Linked DNA regions of Homo sapiens. The main gene of each other region encodes a partner of the protein of the gene in region 2 in a complex. Each region holds a gene or a part of one and is shown on either strand. Other genes may lie near its edges.

The links.
Region 1: YBX1 (region 2) and SYNCRIP share a complex: the UniProt entries of both Homo sapiens proteins name them as parts of the coding region determinant (CRD)-mediated complex.
Region 3: YBX1 (region 2) and HNRNPU share a complex: the UniProt entries of both Homo sapiens proteins name them as parts of the coding region determinant (CRD)-mediated complex.
Region 4: YBX1 (region 2) and IGF2BP1 share a complex: the UniProt entries of both Homo sapiens proteins name them as parts of the coding region determinant (CRD)-mediated complex.

What each region holds. Positions count from the first base shown.
Region 1 is NC_000006.12:85,639,870-85,647,902, reverse strand, and holds the start of SYNCRIP (heterogeneous nuclear ribonucleoprotein Q), read left to right. Parts: upstream 1-5,016; 5' UTR 5,017-5,106; intron 5,107-6,451; 5' UTR 6,452-6,463; coding exon 6,464-6,611; intron 6,612-7,338; coding exon 7,339-7,457; intron 7,458-7,574; coding exon 7,575-7,682; intron 7,683-8,033. UniProt on the Homo sapiens protein: Heterogenous nuclear ribonucleoprotein (hnRNP) implicated in mRNA processing mechanisms. Component of the CRD-mediated complex that promotes MYC mRNA stability.
Region 2 is NC_000001.11:42,699,402-42,704,337, reverse strand, and holds the end of YBX1 (Y-box-binding protein 1), read right to left. Parts: intron 3,558-4,936; coding exon 3,323-3,557; 3' UTR 3,292-3,322; intron 2,358-3,291; 3' UTR 533-2,357; downstream 1-532. UniProt on the Homo sapiens protein: DNA- and RNA-binding protein involved in various processes, such as translational repression, RNA stabilization, mRNA splicing, DNA repair and transcription regulation.
Region 3 is NC_000001.11:244,849,749-244,854,543, reverse strand, and holds the end of HNRNPU (heterogeneous nuclear ribonucleoprotein U), read left to right. Parts: intron 1-40; coding exon 41-94; 3' UTR 95-4,247; downstream 4,248-4,795. UniProt on the Homo sapiens protein: DNA- and RNA-binding protein involved in several cellular processes such as nuclear chromatin organization, telomere-length regulation, transcription, mRNA alternative splicing and stability, Xist-mediated transcriptional silencing and mitotic cell progression.
Region 4 is NC_000017.11:49,042,385-49,049,384, forward strand, and holds part of IGF2BP1 (insulin-like growth factor 2 mRNA-binding protein 1), read left to right. Parts: intron 1-1,043; coding exon 1,044-1,166; intron 1,167-1,582; coding exon 1,583-1,702; intron 1,703-2,606; coding exon 2,607-2,681; intron 2,682-3,505; coding exon 3,506-3,637; intron 3,638-3,875; coding exon 3,876-3,989; intron 3,990-6,967; coding exon 6,968-7,000. UniProt on the Homo sapiens protein: RNA-binding factor that recruits target transcripts to cytoplasmic protein-RNA complexes (mRNPs). This transcript 'caging' into mRNPs allows mRNA transport and transient storage.

The DNA.
Region 1 (8,033 bases), on a different chromosome or scaffold from region 2:
TACATCCTCTTTGGTGGGCTATGTGTTTAGATTTTTTGCCCATTAAATTTTTTTTTTTGCCAGGCATGGTGGCTCATGCTTTTAATCCCAGCATTTTGGGAGGCTGAGGCGGGTGGATCACTGAGGTCAGGAGTTCTAGACCAGCCTGTCCAAAATGGTGAAACTCTGTCTCTACTGAAAATACAAAAATTAGCCAGACCTGGTGGCAGAAGCCTGTAATCCCAGCTACTCAGGAGGCTGAGGCACGAGAATTGCTTGAACCCAGGAGGTGGAGGTTGCAGTGAGCCAAGATTATGCCACTGCATGCCAGCCTGGGTGACAGAGCAAGACTCCTTCTCAAAACAAAACAAAACAAAACAAAAAAAACAAAACATTTTTTTTTTGTTTTTTATTTGCCTAACACTTGATATCAACGTTTTTGCCAATTTTTCAATTAGGTTGTGTGTTTTCTTATTGTTGAGTTTTAAGAATTCTTTGTATATTTTATTGAATAACAGCCTTTTATCAGATATGTGTTTTGCAAAGATTATTTTTTTTCCCTAGTCTGCGGCTTGTCTTTTCATTCTCTAGACAGTGTCTTTCTTGGAACAAAAGTTTTTAATTTTTGATAGGGCAGGCTTTTTATTACTATGAAAATAAGATGTGAGAGATAGTGCCGCCGGGCGCGGTGGCTCACGCCTATAATCCCAGCACTTTGGGAGGCTGCGACGGGCGGATCATGAGGTCAGGAGATTGAGACCATCCTGGCTAACACGGTGAAACCCCGTCTCTACTAAAAATACAAAAAAATTAGCTGGGCGTGGTGGCGGGCACCTGTAGTCCCAGCTACTCCGGAGGCTGAGGCAGGAGAATGGCGTGAACCTGGGAGGCGGAGCTTGCAGTGAGCCGAGATTGCACCACCGTACTCTAGCCTGGGCAACAGAGCAAGACTCCATCTCAAAAAAAAAGATGTGAGAGATAGTGCAAAAATTTTCTTGATTACTAGAAAGATTAGGTTGAATGGCTTCCATGGTCTCTTTCAACACTAGCTTTTTATGGTTCTATGGAAAAAGTAATGGTGTGCTGTGAATTTTTACCCTGTGAATTGAAGGGTTCCCTGGCCCATTATAAAATTAATATATGTTAATGGCAGGAAGTTTAGAAAATGCAGTAAAGAAGAGAAGAAAATATGCAAAAAACAAAACAAAACAAACAAACAAACAAAAAACAGTGTGGCAGTGTGGCATTGACTGGGTGGAAGAATTTTGGATAAGTAAAAAATCCAAACAGGCCTGCCTACATTCCTCTCTTTCATTAGTTGCCAACTCAACAGGGCTGCATCTTCTCACTGTTTCAAAGCTTACATGGACGAAAAGACAGCAATGAAACTAATGAATACTCTGTCGGGAGCAGTGGGTCACGCCTGTAATCCCAGCACTTTGGGAGGCCGAGGAGGGTGGATTACCTGAGGTCAGGAGTTCGAGACCAGCCTGGCCAACATGGTGAAACTCTGTCTCTACTAAAAACACAAAAATTAGCTTGGTGTGGTGGTGGGTGCTTGTAATCCCAGCTACTCGTGAGGCTGAGGCAGGAGACTCGCTTGAATCCAGGAGGTGGAGGTTGCAGTGTGCTGAGATCCCGCCACTGCACTCCAGCCCGGGCAACAGTGTGAGACTCCGTCTCAAAAACAAAAAACCAAAAAACGAGCCCTGGCGCAGTGGCTCACGCCTGTAATCCCAGCACTTTGGGAGGCTGAGGCGGGCTGATCATGAGGTCAGGAGTTCGAGACCAGCCTGGCAAACATAGTGAAACTCCCAACTCTACTAAAAATACAAAAGAATTAGCCGGCCATGGTGGCGGGCGCCTGTAATCCCAGGTATTTGGGAGGCTGAGGCAAGGAGAATCACTTGAACCTGGGAGGCGGAGGTTGCAGTGAGCCGAGATCACGTACTGCATTCCAGCCCGGGCGACAGTGCGAGACTCCGTCTCAAATAAAAAGAAATGCCAGAATCAAGGGAAGGCCAGGCTGAAGCCATAAAGTGGCTGAGATGAGCTGGGGAGACAGGTGGGACAGATCTTAGAGAGCTTTGTTGATCTAGTTAAGGATTTTGGCTGTTGTTCTAAGTGTAATTGGAAGCTAATGAAGGGTTTTAAGCAGACACGCCATAGGATCTTACTTGCAATTAAGATAGAGAAGGTCAAGGGAGGGAGAGAGCCTACACAGGAGACAGAGAGTCATACAGAAAGACAGATGACTTGGGCTTTGAACAGATTAGGACAGCTGTAAGAGTGGATGAATCAGGAGGCTATGCCATTAGTACAGGTGGTAGATGATGGTGGCTTTGCCTGGGTGGTTGCAACATAGAGATAAATGGAGATATATTTGGGAGACAGAATTGATAGGACTTGATTAACTGATATGGCAGTGTAGAGAAGGAAGTGCCTTGAATGATCCGCTCCAGCAATTCATGTGGGGGATGTTAATTGAGATGGGAACTCTGTAGACGGAAGACTGGGGGAAGATCACGTGCTCAGTTTCTTGAAATGCCCATCTGGAGTGCCAGAAAGCCCACATAAACATTGAGGGCGTGGCTAGAGAAAGGAATTAGATGTCAGAGAACAGCTAGAGATTTTAATTTGGGAGCTTTGCCCAGGTTAAGGCACTTTAAAAAATTTTTTTTAATACCCAGGAAGGTCTAAACAAAGTGTTACATGTTTCAGACTCATTTTTATTCTTTTTTTTTTTGAGACGGAGTCTCGCTCTGTCGTCCTGGCTGGAGTGCAGTGGCGCGATCTCCGCTCACTGCAAGCTCCGCCTCCCGGGTTAACGCCATTCTCCTGCCTCAGCCTCCAGGGTAGCTGGGACTACAGGCGCCCGCCACCACGCCTGGCTAATTTTTTTGTATTTTTAGTAGAGACGGGGTTTCACCGTGTTAGCCAGGATGGTCTCGATCTCCTGACCTTGTGATCCGCCCGCCTCGGCCTTCCAAAGTGCTGGGATTACAGGCGTGAGCCACCGCGCCCGGCCAATTTTTATTCTTGTTTAATCCATGGTATGACTCTTATTTTCATAGTTTTCTATTAAACATTTTGTTTTTCATGTATATCATTAACCACGACCTCTGCATTGTGAACAAAAATCCCTATGGCTGAAGCAGCTGAATATCACATATGTTTGATAGTAAGGAATCTGGGGTGGTGGAGATCTCAAATCCTTACTAAACAGGTTGGCTATGTGGTGCTTTGGCTAAAACATACTTCATATCTGATCCAAGTAGCTATGAAAATAATCTAGCATTTTATGTGCTTGTGCACTTTGAAGAGTGTTTATCTAACTTTTCCTCAAACCACTGATTTGTTATCATAGCACAGAGCTCATCTGGGGAACCAGTAAGCTCTTAAAAATAAGCTTTTTAATCAAAAGGACATTGTTTCTATTTTTCATTACAGCTGCCCTGGATAAAATTAGTATCCATATCGCGTCTGTAATTCAAATGCCTTTGTCTTGTCTTTCTTGTACCTAGTAAACGATTATAAAGGAAACGTCATTTCACAGAAGATTTAGTTGCCAAGGTTTTTTTTAAAAGAAACACAGACATTTTTCTCAAAGTTGTTCTAACCACGCAGCTTTGTGCTGTTTCAAGTTGCTCAAACTGTGCCAGGAGGAAGCCCTTAACTGCTTAAAAGGCCAGGGACTGAAACGGAGTATTGCACAACCCTTCACCACCGGGCGGTTTCGCTTCCAAATCTGGCCTTCGTGTCATCCCAAGGCAGGAGCCGCTCCTCGCTCCACTGGAGCCAGCCCCGTTCCCCCTTCAAAAGCAGCCGGGGTTTCCGCGTCCAAGCCTGGGGCGCCCCTCCCTTCGCCGAAGGTTCCCGTGAAAGCGGAGCCGCGCGGCTGCGAGGAGGGCCCACTGTCCAGTTGGGGAGATCGAGTCTCCAAGGGCGACTCTCGCACTCGAGTACCGCCAGTCCGGCGGACCAAAGGTCCGCGGGTCTCCGCGCCGCTCCCCTCCCCCTTGGCCCCATTGTCTGCCTCGCCCCGCCCCGGGGGACACGTGCGCCTGCAGCTTCCCGAGGAGGAGAGCGCGGGGCGGTGGCAGCGGCGTGGACACCGCCTGGAACGGCTACGCGGCCGCGGAGCCGGGGGCGGGGGCCGGGCGCGCACAGACCGGTGGGTGCCCTCCGGGAAGCGGCAGTCGCACTCAGCGCCCACAGCACTCTGCCCCGCCAGCCCCGGACCGGGCAGGGATGGGGCGGGCGGGAGCTCGGTGGGGGTGGCGTGCGCATGGTGTCGCGGGGAGGGGGTGGGGTGGGGCGGGGTGGGGAGATGCCAGTCTCCTGACAAAGGAAAACGAGTGGGACACGCTGAGCCGGCCCGCCCCGCCTGGAGGGGAGAGGGAGGGGGAGTGTCGGGAGGGGAAGGGGCGGGCCTTTCATTCAGTCTCGGCCCCTCGGCCGCCACCGTCGGAGCGGAAGGGCGGGGTCTTGTGCCTCCCCCACCCCCAACCCAAGGGGTGAGGAGCGGGGAAGGCGGCGCGGCGTGGGGGCGGAGCCCGCGGGCGCGCGTCCCGAGGCGTAGGCTACGTTGTCACGTCAGCGCGGGAGAGAGAAAGAGAGGAGCCGACTCGGCAGGGACTGGGGGACCGGGCCGAGAGTGCGAGCGAGCGAGGGAGGGAGTGAGGGAGCGTGCGAGCCAGAAGGGGAAAGGCGGCCACTCGTGCCTGAGCGACCGCAGAGGGGAGTGGGAGCAGTGGGGTAAAGGAGCGGGGGGCGGGAATAAGAAAGGCCGAGAGAAGGCGGACAGAGGCTAGTGGTGGTGGTGGTGGTAGGGGGAGAAGGAGGAGCTGGAGGAGGGCAGGGGCTGAGGGAGTGAGTGAAGCGGACGCGCGAGGGAGGGGAGGGAAGGGAAGGGAAGGGAAGGGGGGGTCACGCGGGGGCGCGCGCGCGCACCGGGAGCGCGCTCGGAGGCGAGTGGAACTGGATCGGGTTTGCTGCCAGCGGCGTGAGCTTCGGCCGCCATTTTACAACAGCTCCACTCGCGCCGGACACAGGGAGCAGCGAGCACGCGTTTCCCGCAACCCGATACCATCGGACAGGATTTCTCCGCCTCAGCCCAACGGGGAGGTAACGACTGCCAGAACCTGGGTGTGGGAGGGGAGCTCCATGACATTGTGGAGTGAGCTGGGGGAGGGTGGCGCGGGTAGAAACCGGCTTTTCTGGAAAATGGATTCCAATGGGGAGAAGAGCACGTTGACTGGGGCTGCCTGGGAGTAGGCCGCGGCCCGCGCCGCCACTTCCTCCTTTCCATGTGCTGCTGCGGTTCGGGCTTTGTCTGCGGCGCTTTGGGAGGAGGCGCCTCCACGGTCCCGTGGCCCGCACGGACCGCGAGCGGCTTCAGAGTTGGTGCTGTCGTGGCGGTCGCCGCGGCGCGGGAGTGGGCGGAGAGGAGTGGGTCTTGTCCTGCAGCCGTGCGGCGAGCTTGGGCGGTGCTCACGGTCCCGCGGGCGTTGAGCCGTCCGCTGAACGCCCTCACGCTGCTGGGTTGCCGGGCAGGCGTCGCAGTCACTGCACGGAAGGGTAAGGGGTGGGGACCTGCACAGCGCGCCACGGGTCACGTCTCGGCCGGGCGGGCGGCCGGGGGTCGTCGGCGCCCGGGGAGCGCCAGGGGCGGAGAGCCATGTGTCACGGCGGAGACGGCGGCGCTGGGGGGCGGGGAGAGCCTGTGGCCTGGCGCCGCCGGTGCCTCGGTGTTCAGGGGAGAGATTGTGCTGCTGCAGCTTTCTGGGGGCTCCGACCGCGGCTTCGGGTTGATGTTGGGAACCAGTGATGGTCGTCTTGGTTTGGGATTCGTTGGGTTGCCGTTGAAGGAAGTTGTAGGACATTGGAAGGCGCAGAGCACGTGTTTCTAATGGGCTCCTGGCGGCCGCAGTGGTGAGACTGCCGCTCTGGGTGCGGAGTCAGGGGCGGGCTTTGGGGTGCGGGGTTAAAGGGTGGAGAAATTGGGTGGTGGGAAGGTGGCTTGTATGAGCGCTTTGTTCTTCGCTGGCTGTTGTTACCGATCTATAAGCGGCAGGCGGGAAAAGCGCGCACTTTGGGGGTTTATCTTTGAGAGAGAGGAGCCCAGTTTTGCTTTCTCCACACACACCTCATTTTCCGAACGGGCACAGCTGCATGTGGCACGCTGGCTCGTACCCGTGCTGATTGGGCTCTATTTGTAATATGGTTTTTCCTAGGGAGTGTTAGCAGGTGAGTCAGGGGTGGTGCTGAGGAAGAATATGGTGAATCGGTCCTTCTGTGCCCTGTGCTCCAAATCTGGCTTGTCAGGCGATAGTGACTGTAAGGCTTTTTTAAAGGGAGGTATAGGCTAGCTGGTGTAGTAAATGGTAGAGAAAGTAAAGATGGGGCTCTCATATTGTCTTGTATTCTTTTTGAAGATCCTAGTTTAATTTTGCTTATTGCGTTTGAACAGATCTCTGGAAACATGGCTACAGAACATGTTAATGGAAATGGTACTGAAGAGCCCATGGATACTACTTCTGCAGTTATCCATTCAGAAAATTTTCAGACATTGCTTGATGCTGGTTTACCACAGAAAGTTGCTGAAAAACTAGATGAAATTTACGTTGCAGGTAAGAACTAACACTTGCAAAATTACATTATGAAATTTTTCTATTGGATTTCTGGCTTTGAGCTAAAATAGCAACTTTTTGTGGTTTCCAATAAGTGTGGGTACTGGAGTTTTGCTTGTTGTGATAGTTGGTTAATTTAAGTTTGAAGTAGAGGTTAAGATGTATAGAGGGAGGGAAGAAGAGAAGGTTAGGAGCTAAAGGCTGGCTTGCATGCTGGCCTGATGGATAAGTATATGATAGTAGCAACAGCTGCTAAATGTTGGGAACAGGCCATGTGACTTTTTTGAGTATTTTTATAGTAGGATTCTTCTTAAATAACTTGGTAACTGTAGACTTGTTTTCTTGTCTTTCTGGTGCGGCTGTTAACTTTTTCTGGTGGTATTTGAAATTGAGTAGAGGTTCAGTTGTCATGCTTGGTACTTTGTTGGTTGATTCTAGGATTCGTAAGTCTGTATACTGTAAAAATACCGTAGTGTTCAGAGTTATCAGACTTTGGAGATAAAAGATGTAAAAGAAGTTAGCTGATTATTGTAAGTGTGGTTGGTAGGGCATATTTAGTTCAGGATTCAGTTCAGAGTGGCTGAAGTGTGTGTTTTTTTTTTTTCAGGTATAGATGAGGGGAGTAGAAGAATTGTAAAGGCACACATGTACCTGTATTGCCAACATAGTCTTCTCTAAAAAATCTTTTCTAAAAATATTAAAAGCTGATAACTTTTATTTTTTTCAGGGCTAGTTGCACATAGTGATTTAGATGAAAGAGCTATTGAAGCTTTAAAAGAATTCAATGAAGACGGTGCATTGGCAGTTCTTCAACAGTTTAAAGACAGTGATCTCTCTCATGTTCAGGTAATGTTAATGTCAATGTGAAAATTAAAAAATTTGAGTAGTTTTGATACTATCTGCTGAATTTTATTAGACTCAGATATGGTTATTGTTAAATATTAATGGAACATTTTTTTGCAGAACAAAAGTGCCTTTTTATGTGGAGTCATGAAGACTTACAGGCAGAGAGAAAAACAAGGGACCAAAGTAGCAGATTCTAGTAAAGGACCAGATGAGGCAAAAATTAAGGTATGTCTTTCTATACTCCCTTTAGTTTTAAAGTCATTTTAACTGTTTCCTAATTTTGGTAAATATTCCTTGGGTATGAAATGGATGTATGTTAGATGTTGAGATAATTCATCAATCTTTCCTAATTCCTTTTTTTAAGTTTTTTTAAACTATTTGTTTCTAAAGCAATTTGCTGTGAAGTTTATCATGTTATCCAGCTACTGATGTTTAAATCTGTTCTATTGGTAGTCCTAGTATAAAGAAACACACCCATGATACCTCTAGAATATTTTTTGAAAAGCTGCAAAGCCAGCTTATTGACAGTTGAAATACTGATGGAGAATGTACATTTGGCAACTGGCTTTTTTTTTT
Region 2 (4,936 bases):
CAGGTTATCTCACAATTGCTAAGGCTGGGGAACCAGGCTCAGTGTCACCATCTAGGTGAGGCAGATAGGAGGAAACCATTGCTGCTGCAGCATCACCAAAGCACAGCGACTACCCTCGCTAGCAAAAGGAGTTTGCATAGCTTCCTAGCAATGTCTCCAGGTCTCATGTTGGTGTATCTGATTGGCAGAACAGGTTCTAAACCTTGATCTTGGCTGCAAGTTTTCTGGGTAGTTTTTGAGATGTATAGCCTCTGTAGTCCTTACAAATAATCCGTAAGTACACAAAATACTGGGCAACAGAACAGGAGACAGTATCTAAAAACATGTACGTAGTTCTGTTTCCAACACTAGCACCTAAGATTGTATTCCCCCAAACAACTGTCCTCCTCAATGTGTTTTCGAGAATCTCATTCTAACATTATTGGATGTTTAACCAATGTTTTTGGTCTTCCCATTTCCATGATATCCTAATACAGATGCTCTTCAATTTATGATGGGTCAATGTCCCCATAAACCACAAGTCAGAAAATCATTAAGTTGAAACTGCATTTAATGTTGGCAACACTGCAGTCAACTTACAATGGTTTCATTTATGATTTTTCAACTCTGTGATGCCATGAAAACAATGTTGATTCAGTAGAAACCGTAACCCCACTAAAAGCCCCTAAGTCAAACCACTGTTTAAGTCAGGGACTGTGTGCGTCTGCAGTTGTAAGTAACAGTTTAGATGCTACCAACAGTTGAAGTTTCAGGTCCACTGCACTCTTGCCAACACAGTATTTTCATGAACACCAGCAAGAAATAGGCTAACTCACTTCTGCAGTACAGATATTTACACTAAGTAGGGTTAAAAAAATTTTTTTTGAGTAGTCTCTTATCAAGTCCTCTGCAAAGAGTTAGTCCCAAGCAGGAGATGACTTCCACAGCACTGCAGGATTCCTGATGTGCCACTCTGGCCTACTCCCGACCCCTACTGTCTGCTTCCCCTGGGCCCTGATAGCTGGCCAGGATGATCTGGAGTGTTTCGGGGCAGCAGTCACTATCAACTACATGACTATTTCACAAAGCAAGCCAAAGAACATCTAACAAAACATTAGAAAACAAAAGCCAGAGAGGCCAGGTGCGGTGGCTCACACCTGTAATCCCAGCACTTTGGGAGGCTGAGGCGGGCGGATCACAAGGTCAAGAGATCAAGACCATCCTGGCTAACACAGTGCAACCCCATCTCTATTAAAAATACAAAAATTAGCTGGGTGTGGTGGCACGCACCTGTACTCCCAGCTACTAAGGTGGCCGAGGCAGGAGAATCGCTTAAACCTAGAGGTGGAGGTTGCAGTGAGCCAAGATTGTGCCACTGTACTCCAGCCTGATGACAGAACAAGACTCCGTCTCAAAAAGAGAAAAGATCAGCCAGACTAGGCTTAGGATTTAAGGTGTTGAGAACCACATAATTACAAGCTCACCAACCTCCATGTTCCTAAGCAGCTTTCCCATGGGTTTTATATTACTTGTTTCCATCTCTAGGACATAAGGAGCTGAACCAATATTTGATGACCACACCAGGCAGTGTGACAGGTTGTCCTAACACTTCAATTGGCATCTTCAATTGACACACTGAAACAAATTCTCCCAAGGTGACAAAACTAAGTGGAGCAGGATGAGAGTCTGGTCGGTCTAGGCTAGAGCAATGCCCTTTTAAACAATGCCTCACAGCCAAAGGGACCCACCCAAAATCTACACTCAAGTCTTTCTTACAAATGAGCTAAATCCTTCAATGAAAAATGGCCAGGTTATCAGAGTATGTATTTTCTAATTTTTAGTATGGGCCCACAGGCATGCCACTTAAAGGATTAGAGATTTTGAGACATTTTACCTGAGGGAATTACCAGTGAGCATCATCTATTTGTAGACTGGGTCAAGCTAAGGGTCCTATAAATAGCTAAATACTTACAAACTAAAGCAAAACTAGACAAATTTACACAAAGACAATTATTTAAGACCTTTATTAACAGGTGCTTGCAGTTTGTTGACTTTTTTGAAAAAATCAAGTTGTAAACTTTTATTACAAATTAAAAATGAAGTTCTTAAAAATCTCAACTTGACCAGATATGAAACAATTTAAAAACCTTTAAAGGCGTATTGAGAAAAACCAGGCTTTTTTAAAAAACACGTTTGTTATTACCAAAAAGAGACGTCTTTAGGTAAAAATAATAAAAACCCCATGCTGCATAGATAATGCAGATAGTTCTATTTATCTGGTCAACGGGCAAAAAGCAAGCACTTTAGGTCTTCAGCTCCAATCTTTTGTTCATTTCTTATTGCTGGAATTTCATATTTCTTCTTGTTGGATGACTAAACTGTAAAGAAAAAAATAAAGATGATCATGTAGAATTCATGGTGATCTTCATTTAGTGTAGTACATGCCCTAGTTTACATTACTTGTGTATTGGGAGACATTAACAGATCTCTTGCCATCCAGCAAATAGTAAACGGGAAAAAACCAAAAGCACCACTGGTTGAATGCTAATTTTGGAGGGAACAACAATCACGTACCTCTCGATATCATGTAAAAAGCGAAATGAAAAAGAATCCCTTAATTTTGGAATTAAGGGTAATAAAAACAAGTGAGCTAATGAGCTAAAGTAACAAGAACGTAATTGTATCATGTGGTCTGCCAGAGAATTATTATTATTAATCTACAGGCAGTTTAAATAAACCATGATAAACCACGTGTCATTCTAGGAGTTTTTTAGACACGAAACACTCTCGTCTTTTTCCGGGAACAACATAAACCAACAAAAAAAAAAAACAATTAGAAATGATTAAAAGATTATATTAATGTTGCCACTTTCTCCAAACAGACTCTATTTGTCACCATCTAGGTTAATTCTAACAGCTATCCCCACTTCCTTTTTGAAATAATGCATAAATAATAATGTAATTAACATATTTCTCAGAATACAGCTAGCAAAACTTTCCTCTGTTTACTAGTGAAATCATAAAATTCATTCAGAAAAGTTGATAGAAAGCACTAATAGTTCAAAATACTCATGAAAATACAGGTCTCCAGTGTCAGAATTGAGAACTAGCTGAAGGGTGGCCAAATATGACTCTGATATTCAATATTCCTAAAATGAAATATTAGGTAATTAAGAATAGGGCAGAACACATTATAAATAACATGGCTTTCATTATCTGATGGAACTGAGGTTTTTCTACTCTTGCATTAATAAAACGAAATGGTCACCACTCACGACTGCCATAAATGGATGGCCATCCAAGCTTGCTTACCCGGATGATGGTAGAGATGGTAAGCCGGCATTTACTCAGCCCCGCCCTGCTCAGCCTCGGGAGCGGACGAATTCTCAGCTGGTGGATCGGCTGCTTTTGTCTCTTTGCCATCTTGTGGTTTAGGGTTTTCTGGGCGTCTGCGTCGGTAATTGAAGTTGCGGCGGTACCGACGTTGAGGTGGCTGCTGACCTTGGGTCTCATCTCCTTGATTTTCTTTATCTTCTTCATTGCCGTCCTCTCTAGGCTGTCTTTGGCGAGGAGGGCCCCTGCAATGAACGGTGTCAAACTTAAGAATGATAAAACCTTCTCTCTTCAACACACCCACCAGTGTAACCAGTTGGTTCACAACTAACTCACCATGTCTGGCCCATTCTGTATCAAGTGGTCTGTAGGCAATTTGTGTAAAGAGATGGGTTTTTTTTTTTGGGGGGGGGGGGATGCTGAGTAGGGGGAAGAGTCTTGCTTTGTTGCCCAGACTAAAGTGCCATGGAATGATGACAGCTCACTGTGGCCTCAATCTCCCAGGCTCAAGTGATCTTCCCACCTCAGACTCCTGAGTAACTGGGACTATAGGCAAGCCCCCCACGTCTCATTAATGTCTGATTTTTAGTAGCGATGTGTTGCTATGTTTCCAAGGCTGGTCTTGAATTCCTGACCTCAAGCTATCCTCCCTCCTTGGCCTCCCAAAGAGTGCTGGGATTACAGGCTTGAGTCTTTTAATCACCAAGATAAAGATACTAAATTTTGGGATTTTCTTTCCCCCAGTGCTCAGAAATGATGGATTCCTGGCCTTTCCTCTGCCCATACTCTGAGCACTCCAGAAAGCCCCAGGCCTTTAGTATCCATGAGTCATCATGGGAATAAATTCACATTTACCTTTGTACATTCTAAAACTCTTTCCCCACATCTTTTGGAACTCATGATGAATCTTCAACAAAATTGTTCTGACTTTTCTCTGCAACCCTACAGTGGTGACTGTTCTAACCTTATTGTGGCTTCTAAATCAACTCTCCCAGTTTCTAAAAACTAGGCTTTCCATCTTATTTTGGATTCTGCTCCATTTACTATCTTTTTCTTACTGCAGTTATTACTAAGGTTCGAGTGTAACAGCTTCTAATAACCTGGGCTTTCAGACTGACCTCCCAGTCCAGCTGTTTTCTACCTGGGTTTTTTCAATTATACCACTCAACTTTCCAATTATGTACCTTCCTATTTTTCTTAGGTAATTCCTTATTGTTTTCTCATTCTTAATCTAGGACCTGTAATACAGCGATTCTATCACCTATTCATCTCACTCCAAGGTTGGGCACAGTGGCTCACACCTGTAATCCTAGCACTTGGGGAGGATCACTTGAGGGCAGGAGTTCAAGACTGCTTGAGTAACACAGTGCAACTCCATTTCTACAAAACAATTTAAAAAAAAAAAAACAACCCTCATTTTCCCCTTTTCTCCCCTCTTTATCCAAGTATAAAGTCTACCACTAATCATATGACCAATCCCTACCCCAGTGTCTTCATCTGGATAAACCAGATCTGGATAAATCAAACCAGATCTGGATAAACCAAATCTGGATAAATCCAACTCTCTGCCCAACCTGAGCCTGATGCCCAAATGGCTAGAAACACAGAGTCAAGCTGGGTGAAC
Region 3 (4,795 bases), about 200 Mb from region 2:
ATTGATGTTTTTTCTTTAAAAACAAAATTTTCTCTTACAGCAATTCTGGGGTCAGAAGCCATGGAGTCAGCATTATCACCAAGGATATTATTGAATACCCAAATAAAACGAACTGATACATATTTCTCCAAAACCTTCACAAGAAGTCGACTGTTTTCTTTAGTAGGCTAACTTTTTAAACATTCCACAAGAGGAAGTGCCTGCGGGTTCCTTTTTTAGAAGCTTTGTGGGTTGATTTTTTTTCTTTTCTTTTTTGTACATTTTTAATTGCAGTTTAAAAGTGAATCGTAAGAGAACCTCAGCATTGTGCACGATAAGAGAATGTGTCAGTATTTCAGGGTTCTACATTTTATCTGTAAAATGTGACTTTTTTTTTTTTTTATCACAACAGAAGTAAAATGTTGCTTTGTACCTGGTGTCTTTTATTAAGAATTTACTCCCCCCATTTCTCACAGAGAATAACAGTCGGGAGTCATTGTCACAATATAATAGAAATGTTAGCAACCAGATTCATGTAAGGACTAAGTGGTCCTCATGAATTGCATTAAGACTCTGTACTGCTCATATTACACTCCATCCTCTCTGTAGTTTGCTGGGTAGTGGAGGGGGTAAGCTAAATCATAGTTTCTGACAATAACTGGGAAGGTTTTTTCTTAAAATAACAATGGAATTGGTATAATTGGGATTGAAAACTAAAACTTGGAACTAAGATAGAGAAGATGGAGTGTATGTAGAAGGGCTGTTAAAAATGTAAAACTTGGTTGCATTATTTGTGGAGGCTCAAACTTGTGAAGGTTAATACCATAATTTTTCCATTTGTTCTGCATTTTGATTCTGAAAAGAAAGCTGGCTTTGCCCATTTCTTATTAAAAAAACTTGTTGTAAATCCAGTTGTCTAATGGGATCTATATGAAGTTAGCCATGTCTGTATGCCCTTCTCCCACAAAATACTGTATAACTAGTGTGCTTGTAGTAGTTAACTCCACCATCTTTGTAAGCTAATGAAATTGTGAGTCACCCATTTATATCTTAATTTTTAATCATGTCAGTTCTTGAATGGGTATCTCCTTAGCCTGCTGATTTCTTTTTCTTTCTAAAGAAAGTGGGTGGAGAAATTAATTTAGACGTTTGTTTGCAATAAAAAGAATTCATTTTACTCTTGTTTTGGGATTCTCGCCATCAAGGTTCAAAATCCCTTTATATAACTCCCAAGAGGAGAAATTTATTAAGTGTGTGCTTTCTGGACAGCTTATTCTTTACTCTGCATAGAACATTTAGGTTTTAAAAACTTAAATGTATACTGACAATTGATACATAATTATGAAGTAAAGTTGAATTCTTCCCTTCCCCTCCCCCCCAGACAACTTTTAACATATTTAATGAGGGGAAAAGGTACTGGCTGGGAGAAGTTAACACTGAGTTTATCATCTTTACAGAATGCTAATGCTGTCCTCAACTGATTATTTTATATACATATATATGATACATGAAACTCTGGGATCAGATGCTTTTAGAAGCCATCATGCAAGCCAGTCATTGATGTCACTGCTACACAACACTGCTAACTTGACTGTAGCTATGTAATAACATTAGATCCCCTAATTGTAATTATATTGGGTTTGCACAGAACACTTTAATCTTCCCCTCACCAATGTGAAGTGAGGAATCAGGAGTCAAACTGTAGAACTAAAATTTGACTTCAGTCTAGCGTTTCCTTGGTGTTTTTAGGTTGCTTTGGTAAGTTTAGGTTTGCTATATTTCTGATTGCTTAGAATTTTGTTTTAGCCCTTTAAAATCAGATCATAAATATGAATTCATACTTCTAAGGAATTTTCTTGCTATAAGCTGGAGTTTAGGTGATGTATAGGTTCAGTTGAGACATTTTTGGAACAGGCAAATCCTTAGTTAACATAAGATATTTAACAGTTGAAGATAGTGTCATGGATTTTTATCTTTTTTAGCAAGTAATGCTAAGAACCACTGGCCTGAGCTACTACTCTTCAGTATACATTATTAGGATTGCATAGACTTACTAGAGGAACAGTTTCAGGTTTTGATGCTAATCAGTGTTGTGTCCTAAAGTTGTCCTTTGTGCCTTTAAAAAGTTTTGGATATATCTTCTAGTTTAAAATTGCTTATTAAGGAATTCATTTTATAATTGCAGTGGGAAAGTAATGGTCAAGTAACACTAGGTAGACTATCATGCCTGTTTAGCCCAGAGAATTTGGGGGGAGAGAGAATAGATAAAAATGGCACCCAGAAAAATGTTAAAATCTTTAGTCAAGACTAGAATTAATACAATTGTCTACACTTGTATGGCAGAAATAACCTTATAAAGTGTTTAAGGAATTCAGAGAAGGGAATGTACCAAATAAGCAACAGGGAGAAAATTAGGTAAGAAGTAAGATACGAACGAGAAACCTGATTTATTGCTCATCCTTCCCTTGCCTCCCTAATGGCAAGCAAAACTCTGAACATCTGAAAAGGATGTAGTTCTGGACAAATCCTGACTACCCAGAGGAAACTCACTGTGAGATTGCTGTTGATTTGAAGGGTGCTTTCACTAAGGTTATATTTTAAAGTAGAATAACACATGCTGAGTGTAAACTGGCTTTGGATTGGTCAGCTGCAGTAGTACAAAAACAGCATAGAATTTGAGAAAACTAAAACTGCTATGAGATAGCTATGAGAAAACTAAAACTGCTATGAGATAGAAATGATGTAAAATTATGTGGAAAGTTTTCCCTCATATACTCACATACAGCCTTTGAAGGGCTCTGGCTCTGACCGGTTGATGGCCTTGAGCGAGATGAAATCATGAAATTGAGTCAAATCAATTTGACATTGAAATGACAAGAGGAAACTCTTAAATACATAAAAACAAGCTCTCATTTGCCTAGGATAGATACTGTCTTAAAAATAAAGACTGAACCTAGATGTTCTGAGCACTAGCAACAAGGTATTTTAACAAGTTTAAAGGAATTCTCTGAAAAAGTTATAAAATTATTCTAGGAAACATAACCATAATAGTGTTTTAAGGGACTTTCACCTGGGGATTTTATATTCATGAACAGAGTGTATTCTGTATTTAAAATGTCTCATTTGTGGGAATTGGATGACATGTTTTTTGATAAATTTATTCACAATATAAATTGACTTTTTATTCTAGGACCATGTGAATAATGGGTTCCATTGCACAAATACAAATATTTTAATAGCTTCTTAGGCAGTGGTGTAGACATCTTGGATATAAATAATTGTAGATCTTGTATATTTGATTTTTAAAAAACTAGAATAAACAGAGAGGCATAAACATATCTTAGAGTCCAAGTGGTAGTGTTTAGCATTGGATATAATAAATGGATGTTTTACAAAGTGTTTCCATAATTCTCTTCCTATACATAAATGTCTTGTTTTCAAAAGTGGATGGAACTTGGCTGGGTGTGGTGGCTCACGCCTGTAATCCTAGCACTTTGGGAGGCCAAGGCGGGAGGATCACTTGAGCTCAGGAGTTTGAGACCATCCTGGGCAACATAGTGAGACCTGGTCTCTTGAAAAAAAAAAAGTGGATGGAACTTGTAGCAGAGAATTTTATCTACTTCTCAACCTGCTTCAGAATACCCATTTGAGATGTTCCCCTGGAAAGATGAACACAATACTGCATCTGAAGCCATTTCTTCCCACCTAACATTCTTAAAATGATTAGAGTCTAAACTTTGTCATTCATTCCTAATTCTGGAGCTCTGAGGTTGAGGTGTTCAGAGTTTGGTGAATAATTGGGTTTAAGTTTTAACATTTTAGTAATAATAAAAGCAAACACATACATGTTAAGGCCTGACAATAGGTTGCAATACCCATGCATTGGGACTCATACCCAGCATAAATGGTGAGGGACTGAACATTAGTGCTTTGAGCAAGAATTGGTTAACTACCTGAGATCTCTAAAACAGTAATTTGAATTACTAATACATAAACCACAAGTCTCTTCGAATTGTTAATTGCCTAAATTTACCCTAAAACTTAGTTAACGCTGCAGTGCCTTTATTAAAGCTTTTTTTTGGGGGGGGGTGTGGGCACAGCTACTCCATAACTTTAAATTTTAAAGCATGAAGGTGATCTAGCTAGTGTTAGTGCTTGAGTTGGTAGTTACATAGGCTGCTCTTGAATCGTCCTGTTTTCTTTGCCTAGTATTAGCACCACAGGTACATATTTGTAAAATAAGCATTAAAAGTACTTTGTCCAGCTAACTCATGTTGGAGTGACCTTTGTCTTACTAACCTTTGTTACTAAACTTGTTAATTAGAATAAGCCCTTGAGAATTTGGAAGTGAGCTATACTACTAATGTAGTATATATCTCTTGAGTGTGTTGGAGTAGATGAAAAACCAGGGGTCCCCAAGGGTATATTTTTGAAATTGAACAGAAACAATTCATCTTAATATTTAGTTTTCATTATGTTTAGCTTAATATGTGTGCTAGTTTATTTGGCGTCACACTTATGTCAATCTCAAGTCATGCAGAAATAGCACAGTCTCAGAAAAGAGGTTAGGTGGGAAATAGATGATATGCTTACATTATTGAGCAGGACTATGCTTTCACATCCTAACCAATTGACTAAAAATATAAATGATTGAAGTAATTTTCATTAGTTGCCCCAGGAGTCTTTAATAATAGTTTTAAGGGATAGTAGATTGGACATAGATAGATGGGTTATTCATAATGGATATTCATAATGGATATTCATAATGTTAACCTAGAATTATTCAGAAAATATAACACCTATGTAGTAGAATCTA
Region 4 (7,000 bases), on a different chromosome or scaffold from region 2:
CTGGGTAGTACCCTCTGCTTATCCTTTCCTGAGTCTTAGCAACAGCAGCTTGTGGGGTGCAGGGTGATGGACATGTGCCCTGTGCCGTGTGGCCTTGGAGCTTTAGTTGATGCTTTTGGACTTCGACTATCAGAAATAGTATTTAAATAGTATTTAATTAGCAAGGATTCTTCACCTGGTTCCTAGAGTAGGGGTCCAATCTTGGGCTTTGAGTCCTGTGATTCCAAGTATGTGTACAATTTGTGTTTGTGTGCACTTTATTGAAATGAGGGGGTCCATCGTTTTCATCTGATTTTTATTTTATTTTTTTGAGACAGGGTCTTGGTATGTTGCCCAGGTTGGAGCACAATGGCGCAATCATAGCTTACTGCAGCCTTGACCCCCTGGGCTCAAGGAATACTCCTGCTTCAGCCTCCCAAGTACCTAGGAGACTACAGGTGTACACCACCATGCCCAGCTAATTTTTTAAAATTTTATTTTTTGGAAACAGGGTCTTGCTGTGTCACCCAGGTTGGTCTAGAACTCCTGGGCTCAAGCGATTCTCCTACCTTGGCCTCCCAAAGTACTAGGATTATAAGCATGAGCCACTGCACACAACTCATCTGATTTTTAAAGGAGACTTGGGGTTGGGGTACAGGACCAAAAATGTTTAGAATCAGAGTCCTAGAAGTCCAATGGAGCTCTGTCTCCACGCCTTTTTCTCATATAGGGGGTTATAGTATAGTGTCATGGGTCTATCGTCTGTCTCCAGCAGTCTGAACAGCCAGAGAGGAAGGACTCCTGAGGGTGTACAACTGTTTGGCATTTCTGGTTGCAATTGCTAGCCGTTAGTCCAGTGAGAACATCATATCACTTAAAATTCCACACCCGAAGTGTGTAGGTGAGAGTGTATGAAAAGCACAGAATAGGCTTTTGTGGAAAAGTATGTAATTCATGTTTTTGGCCCACTTGCCTCTGGGGCTACTCGCCTTTTATACAGCGGGGGTCACACACAAGCCCCTGTCAGGGTGTGCTGACTCTTCCTCCTCATCTTTCTTCCCCAGCTGCAGTCTCACCTGATCCCTGGCCTGAACCTGGCTGCTGTAGGTCTTTTCCCAGCTTCATCCAGCGCAGTCCCGCCGCCTCCCAGCAGCGTTACTGGGGCTGCTCCCTATAGCTCCTTTATGGTAGGTGGAAGATCTTATTACACGGGATCCCTGGGCCCATATGTGGCCTCCCTTAAGGGGGACTCAGCATGCTCTGGGAGTTGGATGCTTGGCAAGTTTGCAGGGAGAGGGAAGGAAGGTCTCAGAGGCATCCCTCCTCTCCAGTGCTCCTAGCCACTGGCTCTGAGGCTCCCAAATGTCTGCCTAGAATGCTCCCGGGGCATAGACAGCACTGTTCCCTTACTCTCTCCTGGCCTCTTCCCTTTAGCCCTACTGGGCATAGGAAGAGCTAAAGAGCTCACAGCATCCCTTGGCAGCCCAGGGTGGCGGTTTGGTGCCTGTACTCCTTCCTCCTTGAGGATGCAAGGCAGGGGAGTGGAGGGTTTCTGGGCCATGCTACTTGGGCCCCCTGGTAACAACGCCTCCTATCCTGGCAGCAGGCTCCCGAGCAGGAGATGGTGCAGGTGTTTATCCCCGCCCAGGCAGTGGGCGCCATCATCGGCAAGAAGGGGCAGCACATCAAACAGCTCTCCCGGTTTGCCAGCGCCTCCATCAAGGTGATCTGCTCTGTGGGTCTTCCTGTTTCTGGAAAGGGAGGGGTCTCTGCTTTTATCACTCTGCACTTTCTCCCATATTCCCCCTACTCATTTGAGAATTCTGTGTGTCATATGAGGGACCTTTCCCCCATGGAATCGAAGTCCTCTTTGTTTTTGATCTTGCTTGGTCCCCATGGGATGGCTTCAGTGCTTCTGGGTTTTCAGGCTGGGCAGGGGCAGGGTTATAACATAGAAAGAGAACTTAGGTTCTAACACAAACTGATGGGTTCAAATCCAAGATCCATCTCATCACCCCTTCCCCCAATACACTATATGATCTGAGCCTCACTTTCCTCGTCAGTACAATATTATGAGGCTACGCAGCCAAAGCCCTTCGCTCACATACTAACACCAAGTAAGTGTTAGTTGTCTGTCACCTTCCCTGGCCAAGGTCCAGGGGAGAGAGAAGGGAGAATCTGTCATAGTGAAACAAGGATGCTGTTAGAGTTTCACAAACCTAAATCCGGTTGCTTTAGTTGTCTTAAAAGCTTTGAGCAAAAACCTTGATTGTTCTCCAGTGGAGGTGCAGTCACTGCCCTCTATCCGTTGGTCATTTCATTTGTGTCCTTGCCTGTTGGCAAGACTCCACTGAAACCTCTCTGGGAGATTGGTAGGTGGAGGGGGCAGGAGGCCCTACTTAGAAAGTGTCATTGAAGCCAATCCTTCTAACTGACCACCTCTGCCCTCCTAATAATTCTGGTGTGAAGGCGTAATGATGTGGGCTTCAGGGTCTTTGTTCTTCCTCCCCTAAGTCTTCAGAATGGGTAGTTGGGAGTAAGGGTGGTAGAAGGGGAACTGGATGAAGTGGACATGGTGGGGGTCTTCCCATAGAGGGTCCCTCATTGACTAGCTTTTTGCTTTTTAGATTGCACCACCCGAAACACCTGACTCCAAAGTTCGTATGGTTATCATCACTGGACCGCCAGAGGCCCAATTCAAGGTTTTGGTCTTTATTGTTTTCCAAGCTGAACATGGAGGAATTGAGGTTGGGTATTTCCCCTGAGGTAGGAAAAAGGCTGGGTCAGTTTCCCGTTAGCTGTCAAGTCCTCATCACATCTTTAAGCCTTCCATGCAGGATAAAGGGCTGCAGAGCTATTTTCAAATTGACATCAAACTGGATTTCTGTTGACTTCGTCTTCCCTTTTTAAGGTCCACAGAAGAAGATGGGAAGGAAAGAAGTCTGAGGGCATCTTATTTGCACTCTGCTGTCATTTCTAAGGAAGGCCTTTAATGCCAAATTCTCATCTTTTATGTCCCCACTAAATCCTAAGGTTCTTGAACTTCTGATCAGACAGCCAAAAAATGAACCATCAACTAGCTTAACCTAACATATGTGAGGATAGAGGACTGGGACAGCTCTCTGGGCCACTGGAGAGTCAGACAGGCCTGCCCTCTGTGTGACTTGATTAGTTGCCATTCAGGGCCTTGAAATGCTGGTCAGTGCCACGTCCAGATTCCATAGGTCTGGTTTGTAGCTTGTGAATTAGATTCCTCTGGGAACTATTTTTTCCCTTGGGAAGTGTTTATTCAATTACTCATAACTCATAATCTCCACCCAGGGTCTCCAGTATGATAGCTAAGCAGAAGGAATGCTGACAAGCTGCCCACCTGAGCCTTGCCCTTCACCTGCCTTAGATGGTTAGCCCGCCTAGGATGGGGAGGGCCTGTGGGCCAGAAAATATGGGCTGGAGCTTCCTTTTTCCCACTTTTCTCTTTTGTCACAGATATATGAACCACTGATTAACAATTACCTCCTCTTCTCAGGCTCAGGGAAGAATCTATGGCAAACTCAAGGAGGAGAACTTCTTTGGTCCCAAGGAGGAAGTGAAGCTGGAGACCCACATACGTGTGCCAGCATCAGCAGCTGGCCGGGTCATTGGCAAAGGTGGAAAAACGGTGAGCTGTGAGGGCCAGGTTGAAAGCCCTGGGCCTTGGTCTCCAATCTCAGCAGCTCTCTCTGGTCTCCTGTACTGCTCAACCTCAGGACTCCTGATTTGCTCATTTACTTGATTCTACTCCCCAAGCTCAGGTCCTGACTCTTCCAGGTTCTCCCCACTAGTCACCCTGGCTCCTCCCTCCAACCCCACCCATGCTTTCTTGATGGCACCCTGAGCTCCTCTCTGGCCACCCCCAGGTGAACGAGTTGCAGAATTTGACGGCAGCTGAGGTGGTAGTACCAAGAGACCAGACCCCTGATGAGAACGACCAGGTCATCGTGAAAATCATCGGACATTTCTATGCCAGTCAGGTACATATGGTGCTCCCCCATTGAGGGAGGGCTGCAGGAGCCCAGGGAGCAGAGAAGCAGAGACTCTATAGAGGTTGACCTTCATGACGTTGACAAGTCCTGGGGCCTCAGCCACATCTGCCTGCCTCTAGGCTAGGTTATTGCCCTCTTTCAGGTGCAGAAGTGGGATGTGTAGATGACATATTACCTCTTATTACTCTCTAGGAAAAGTGATTTGACAAGTTTAATGTACATATATTGTGTATAACATTATATATATAAATAACATATATATGAATATATATTATATGTAAATATATATATATATGTTCTACGTTAGTCCCTCCCTAACCCCTTTCTGCACTGGTTAAGAAAGAAGATTAGTTTTGTTCATGGAATAATGATAACAGTACTAACACCCTGGATTGATGGCATTTTTGAAATGTAGTCCCTCTGCCTTTCGCAGAATGGCTGTTCTCTCCCTGGTTTCTGCTCTTCCACCCTCCCATTCCTTTCCCAGAACTCATCATTGCCGTTCAGCACTCGGACAGGCTCCAGAGCATGGAAGGGAAGGCCAATATCAGGTTCAAATTTTGCTGAACCTCAGCAAGGCAAGCAAACAGGTGGTTGGCAGCTAATGGTGTTTTCCTAAAGTCTTAAATCCATCATTGTTAGAACTGGAAAGGAACTTTGGAGACTGTTGATCACAGTTCCTACAATTCATAGAAGATATCCAGATCTTAGCAGGCTTGTGGTCTGCTGGGGCTGCTAGAGCAATTGGGGCAAACTGGCTCTTGGTTTTTTGGCTTCCAGTGCCCATATAGTATAGCATCAAGTATGAAGGTTTTGGATCCAGGGAGCTTTGACCTCAAACTTCACATACATAGCCTTTCTGCTATGTGACCTTGGATAAGTAACTTTCTCTGATAACCCTTTGAGAAGTATTAACAAGAGGCTTTAGTTACATCTCAACTATATATATATATAAAATAACAAAAAAGTATTAATAAGAGCCATAATAATAATAATATCTAAGATTTATCGATGCCTTTGTATACCCAGCACTGTTTTATGTGGCTTATGTATATTAACTCATTTAATTCCCACAACAATTTCATTTTATAAATGAAGCTTAAGAGGGTAAATGTGAATCTTTAATTCAGCGTTTTTTTTTTAAAGAGAGTAAAGGATACCTCCAAAGATGCATAAAGCCAGGATATATTAATATTAAACACTGAAGCAATTTTAGCTGATCAGAATGAGAATTAAATGAAAAGCTATGTAAAACATCAAGCCAGGGTTGATGGAGTTGGACCTCTTATTGACTTACACATTATTTTCCCAACCTAGATCAACTTCCTCTTTTTTTTTTTTTTTTTGTGACAGGGTCTCGCTCTGCCATCCAGGCTGGAGGGCAGTGGTGTGACCACAGCTCACTGCAGCCTCTACCTCCCAGGCTCAAGTGATCCTCCCACCTCAGGCCCCCCAAGTAGCTGGGACTACAGGCAGGTACCACCACGCTCAGCTAATTTTTGTATTTTTTTGTAGTGATGAGGTTTCACCATGTGGCCCAGGCTGGTTTCAAACTCCTAGGCTCAAGTGATGTCACTGCTTCAGCCTCCCAAAGTGCTGGGATTACAGGCATGAGCCACAATGCCCAGCCTCAGCTGCTTCTTTAACCAGGAAAGGAAGCACTCATTTATGGAAAGGAGACATTCTGGTCTTCATTCTATGAAGTGAATCCCATTTTGCAGTTTATTTCCTTTATAAAACTTTATTCTTAGGGAAGAACCTTTTAAGAAGGAAATAATAAAAGATTGGGTATTTTGTCCATTTTTACAGTGAAGCTTATGTATTTATGCTTTTTGACTAACCCATATCTGGACTTTATTTTTTATTTTTACTTTTTTTTTTTTTTGAGATGGAGTCTCGCTGTGTTGTCCAGGGTGGAGTGCAGTGGCACAATCTTAGTTCACTGCAACTTCCGCCTCCCCTGTTCTAGTGATTCTCCTGCCTCAGCCACTCAAGTAGCTGGGATTACAGGCGCACGTCACCACGCTCGGCTAATTTTTGTATTTTTAATAAAGATGGGGTTTCACCGTGTTGGCCAGTCTGCTCTCGAACTCCTGACCTCAGGTGATTCACCCGCCTCAGCTCCCCAAAGCGCTAGGATTACAGGCATGAGCCACCGTGCACCTGGCCATATCTAGACATATTATTCCTTTTCCTGGGGTATTAAAATGAAGCGTGGATTTGTGATGATGTCTTCTAAGTTACGACCCTCTACAACAGGAGTCCCCAAACCCCGGGCCACGGACTGGTACCGGGCCACACAGCAGGAGGTGAGCGGCAGACGAGTGGGCATTACCTCCTGAGCCCCGCTTCCTGTCAGATCAGGGCGGCATTAGATTCTCATGGGAGGGCTAACCCTGTTGTGAAGTGCTCGAGGGATGCGCAGTGCATGTGAAGGATCTAGGTTGCACACTCCTTATGAGAATCTACTGCATGCTGATTTGAGGTTTCATCCTGAAACCACTTCCCCACCCCCACCTCCATCCGTGGAAGAAAAATTGTTTTCCATGAAACCAGTTCCTGGTGCCAGAACAGTTGGGGACCACTGCTCTGCAATATGTAATATATTTCTGCCTAGAAACTCTAGGCATTCTGTTTTGCGTTTGGTAATGTTTATCAACTTTGTCAAGTTTTAAATTCTGATGAATGGATTGATACTACTGTTTCTCCTTCCTTCAAGTCCCCCAACCCCATCTCCCACTTAACACCCACCACGTTTGCTGTATTTTCCAGGGGATACTCAGGCTCCACTGGAGGCAAAGAAATGTAAGGTCACCCCAACCCTCATTCTTCCTCTTTATCTTTCTTCTGAGTCCTGTGTGACCTGTTCTGTTTATTGCCTGTGTCTGGACCTGATGACCTCTCTTCCGTGGAAGGCTGTCTCCTTGGAGGTCTCACACCCACTCTCTTGCCTGTTCTTGCTGCAGATGGCTCAACGGAAGATCCGAGACATCCTGGCC